Regions from separate parts of the Homo sapiens genome. Here region 1 is linked to region 2. The links come from fine-mapping of genetic effects on gene expression. Tissue or cell type: whole blood. Region 2 holds a variant in brackets; the other region holds the start of a gene. All regions are shown on one strand. Distances are between the middles of the regions.

What was found. PIP is the estimated chance that this variant, and not a neighbour inherited with it, causes the effect.
Region 1: it holds the start of TLR7, and the variant in region 2 is fine-mapped to the expression of TLR7 in whole blood (TOPMed, PIP above 0.99). The same link has a PIP of 0.9 or more in blood mononuclear cells.

The regions. Positions count from the first base shown.
Region 1 is chrX:12,865,940-12,868,627 of GRCh38, forward strand. TLR7 (toll like receptor 7) reads left to right here and starts at 1,133. Exons shown (of 3, transcript NM_016562.4): 1 at 1,133-1,184; 2 at 1,542-1,642. The coding sequence starts at 1,640. RefSeq lists enhancers at 1,971-2,040, 2,061-2,180.
Region 2 is chrX:12,889,578-12,892,265 of GRCh38, forward strand. It overlaps TLR7 (toll like receptor 7), which reads left to right. Exons shown (of 3, transcript NM_016562.4): 3 at 1-784. Among named protein-coding and RNA genes, the nearest start is that of TLR8, 16 kb to the right of the region's middle. The variant G/A (reference allele first, on the strand shown) is at 1,086.

The sequences.
Region 1 (2,688 bases), 24 kb before region 2:
CTGATTTGAATGGGACCTCTTCTTCTATTACCAATTTGGATCAGTAATTATTTATGTATGAGAAAACTATTGATTTTTACATATCGTTGCATAGCAGAGTGGTTTAATAAGGAGACATTTGGTTTTTACTGCCTGTGTGGGTATCACTTGCTATGTGACTTGAGGCAAATCCAATATTTCTTCTGTTATAAATTCCAGTATTTGTAAAAAATGGGTAATAAGATCTCTATTTTATATAGTTTTAGTATTTAATGAGATAATACATATAAAGTCATTAAAACAGTGTCTGGCTCATAAAAAACCCTCAATAAATGTCACTTATTACTGTATCTGGTTTTTGAGCTGCTCTATTGCACCATTGAGTTTTCAGCCCAGTATATGTTAACCCTGATCATTATCTGCAGAAGTCCCCGTGCCACACTCTACATCATCCAAATTCTCTCCAGGTGGACTAAGTAGATTAAAGAACTTTAAACATAACTACCATATTTTGGCTCTATCTACAAAATGTCCAATAATCAGTTAAGAAAGGAACAATTCTCTTGGGGCCCACACTTTGAGAAGCAAATGCAGCTGAACTTTTTTAGAGGAAAGTGAGTGAACCAACTGGTAGCTTTGCCACTGCTTAAAAACCAGCATCCTTTCCAGCTGGGTCTAAGACAGAATAAGGTAAATTTAGATATGTCTCTAATATATCTATAGAACAGTGGTTCTCAACCCGGGGTGTTTTTGCCCCTTAGGGGATAATTTGCAATGTCTGGAGACATCTGTGATTGTCATAACTGGAAGGGGGCAGTGCTATTGGCATCTAGTGGGTATAGAGCAAGGGTGCTACCAAATATCCTATGGTGCAACAGAGAATTATCTGGTCAAAAATGTAAATAGTGCTGAGGGTGAGAAACCCTGCTATAAAAACGAAAGAAATTTGGTCTACAGAGTTGTTTGGATTTAGACAAGACGTTGCCCCAATAGTGGTGATAGAAATAAGAGGAACCCCGTGCTTTTGCAAAGCCCATATCTGGGGTGGCTTAAATAATCATGCTCCTCCCCATCCCCCGACCTGATCTTTGTAGTTGGAAACTCCAGGGCTGGCTGCCTGTAGTCTTTGTGACTACACTTCCTGCCTCCCATCACTTCATCTCAGAAGACTCCAGATATAGGATCACTCCATGCCATCAAGAAAGGTATTTTAAACATTGGAACACATATAGATAATTTAAGTAGGTAGATGTATGTGCTGTTATAAGGAAGTGGGGAGGAGAGAAGAGGGAACCGAAATCATATGCACAAAAATTTTTTTTAGAATATAAATAAAAAATGTGGTAGTCTAAAATGTCAATTCTTCAAAGATAAAGTTAGGCTTTCAGTAACGTTAGAAATGGTTTTCTGGAATATGTCTCCAGTCTACCTAACTTTGAGGAAGTAAATACTGTAAATAGATGTTTCAAACGCATTTTAAAGCAATGATCCTAGCATGTCTTTAAGCTACAGTATTGTGCTGTCTTTGAAATGTAAACTTTGATGTCTTCTCTTTCTCTTAGTTGATGCTATTGGGCCCATCTCAAGCTGATCTTGGCACCTCTCATGCTCTGCTCTCTTCAACCAGACCTCTACATTCCATTTTGGAAGAAGACTAAAAATGGTAAGAACAGCTCAGAGAACCTTAAAAAGTGTTATCTGTAATCTTTGTGGAAACAACTGAAACCAGCTGGCAAGAGCAATATTGAAGAATCTGTACTTAGGTTATTTGCTGGGGGAAAGTGCTTCCTGATATTTCACAATTGGCATTAATGAAGGGGGCATGTCACAATTTCAGATTAATCAACGCTTGCTCTGTTCAACTTCCTACAAGAATTAAATATGTGCTGTGGGGAGGAGGAGCAGATGTTTGAATTGGGGACATAGCTTCTATGTATCTCATTTCTTCAGCCTACAATTTTGGCTTTAAAGCCATAACAAATCACTGAATTACTGAAGTTACTTTGTGCTTTTTCCAGCATATGGTGTTGTCTTAATGACTGTGTGGATGAAAGTGTGTGGGCAGGCTCATAGCAATAAAATACGGGAAATCCCCGGGCTTGAGTGCTGTCAAAGAAAACTAAATTTGGACAGTAGATAAAGATACTATCAGGACTATTGCAATCGGCAGAAAGAGACCTCAGTATAGAAAGGGGCTCAATTCCAAATACAGCCAAAGACCAGTAAAGATTTCTGGCCAAGGAGTAGAGTGGGGGTCAGTGGATGGAAAATTACTAAGAGGAAACATCAAGGGTAAAAGGATTCTGGCTAAACCGACCTGACAGGATTCTTGCTGAAGACAGGCCAGGGTGATCAGACCTCACCTGTGGATGGTGGGAGATGAGGAATTTGATCAGATATTGAGGGTGATCACATACCAAGAGGAGTGGATTATCAATAAAATGACTTAGCAGGATTCCTGCTTGAACTGGGCAATGCAAAGATGGACATGAAGCCAAAGGCCGAAGCCTAGGGGTGTAGTAGAGCCTGATTAAGTTGAATTAAGGAGAGTCTTTGTCAGCGCTGGCTCTCCCAGTCACTAGTTGGGGGGGCCTTGTGCCTGTCATCAAAGTCCTCTGAAACTCAATTTCTCTGACTATGAAATAGGCATTAGAATCCCTCCCCTGTTGCCTTCCAGGGCCACTGTGAGGCTCAAATAATAGACTATTT
Region 2 (2,688 bases):
AAAGAAAGACACATCCTTACCATAAATGCATATGGTCCACCTACAAATAGAAAAATATTTAAATGATCTGCCTTTATACAAAGTGATATTCTCTACCTTTGATAATTTACCTGCTTAAATGTTTTTATCTGCACTGCAAAGTACTGTATCCAAAGTAAAATTTCCTCATCCAATATCTTTCAAACTGTTTTGTTAACTAATGCCATATATTTGTAAGTATCTGCACACTTGATACAGCAACGTTAGATGGTTTTGATGGTAAACCCTAAAGGAGGACTCCAAGAGTGTGTATTTATTTATAGTTTTATCAGAGATGACAATTATTTGAATGCCAATTATATGGATTCCTTTCATTTTTTGCTGGAGGATGGGAGAAGAAACCAAAGTTTATAGACCTTCACATTGAGAAAGCTTCAGTTTTGAACTTCAGCTATCAGATTCAAAAACAACAGAAAGAACCAAGACATTCTTAAGATGCCTGTACTTTCAGCTGGGTATAAATTCATGAGTTCAAAGATTGAAACCTGACCAATTTGCTTTATTTCATGGAAGAAGTGATCTACAAAGGTGTTTGTGCCATTTGGAAAACAGCGTGCATGTGTTCAAGCCTTAGATTGGCGATGTCGTATTTTCCTCACGTGTGGCAATGCCAAAGGCTTTACTTTACCTGTGAGTACACACTATATGAATTATTTCCAACGTACATTTAATCAATAAGGGTCACAAATTCCCAAATCAATCTCTGGAATAAATAGAGAGGTAATTAAATTGCTGGAGCCAACTATTTCACAACTTCTGTAAGCTTTATTGTGTTTCATAGTTTCCGTTCTTCTTCTGTGAGAACAAGGATAATGGCATTAAAAAATCAGCTTTTGGTCATTATAAATTGTCTTCTATTAAAACACATATACACATAAAATCACTTGAAGACAATTTAAACATCTTCTGAAATGGATCAAGAGGAAGGGAAACTGAAAATAATGCAACTCAGAAACCACAGAGTATTTTGACATGAGGTTAAGCACCGTGGTTTGTTGTAGGAAAATAACAGCACACCAACAGATGGTTTTTATCTGAATTCTTTG[G/A]TAATCTTGACATGTCATTCTTCTAACTTTCTGAGGGCCCTCAGTGCAGTTTTGTAGGACTGGAGCTGTTCACAGACGGTCCCCACAAAGCTCTGAACGTGGGGCTTCTCTGCTGACTGGCCTCTGGTTGGCTCCACCCCGGAAGGAACTCCCAGATTCTCCATGAATTCCGCTTCCACCATCAAGCCTTGGTCCAAGCCCCTTTCAACCTTGACTTGGCCAGGAAGTGTCCTTTCTCTTCAGATAGATACTACACCTTAGCAAGACTTGGCATTTTTAGAATCCAAGCCAAGGGAGGCACTTGGCAAGGCAAATGTTATGGATGAGAAAAAGGCAAAACAAGTGTCTGCAGTTTGTAGAGGAGAGAGAGGATGAGTCTGATTGTAGCCCTGACCCTGAGTCAGGATCTCTCGGCCCCATTTGCAGGTCTACTTCCAGCTCCATCTGTCTGGACACTCTTTTAGGTCCAGATCATCTCTTACATGTGGCCAAGGAATATAGAGTATGCAAGGGGATGTAGCGACCTGAGAGTGTGAGTAACTTGTGCCCATCTCCAAGGAAGCTGTGATGGGGATAGCAAGGACACACACTCTTCTTATTTATAATGCCTTTCCCCCTCCCATGAGATATGCTTTTTATTTACTTCCTCCTTCTCATCCTAAGTCGGGTGAACAAGAGGACCAGGTTGCACATCCTACTACTTATTTATGGCCCAATTTTAACATGGGGGTGGAGTTGAGGTTGGAATTGTTCCTCCGCCTCTGCTGCACATGCTCAGTAAGCAAGAACACTGTTGATGGGAAAGGCTTAGTCACAGACAGTGGGAGCACATCCCTCCTTGGAGCTTTGGGTCGCTGTGCTCCAGAAACAGTTAGTTATAGCACACCCTGCTCCTGGCATCTACTGGAAGGTGAAGCCCTTGACCCTAAGAAACATTGGGAATGATTTGTACCCTCCAAAGTCCAATAGCTATGTCGGAGGGAAACGATCAAAGAACATGATTGAGGAGACTCAAACAGAGATGTGCTTCAGACAACACCAAGACAGAAAATTAATCCATTTTACCAAGTTAACAATGTACTGAAGGCGAACAAGAGACCAACCCACCTGCCAACCAACGCTATGAAGAAGGAGGGTTGATCAGTCTGGCTAACATGGTGAAACCCCATCTCTACTAAATATACAAAATTAGCTGGGCGTGGTGGCACACTCCTGTAATCCCAGCTACTCGGGAGGCTGAGGCAGGAGAATCGCTTGAACCTGGGAGGCAGAGGTTGCAGTGAGCTAGGATCAAGCCACTGCACTCCAGCCTGGGTGAGAGAGTGAGACTTGGTCTCCAAAAAAAAAAAAAAAAGAAGGAGGGTTAAAAAGAGAATAAGTCCCAAACTCATAAGATGGTGTGGAAAGGGCCCTGGTGACATAGGGGCCACCCATGCCAGTGAGAATGAAATCACAACAGGGCAGTTTCACACTGTTTCAGGTTTTTATTTTTTCTTCTTCTTCTTTCCCTCCTTTCTTCTTTTGCCTCCCCCTCCCTCTCGGTTTCCTTTTTGGCTCTAGACACCCACAGCAAGTGTCAAGCAATGTACAAGAATGAAAAGAA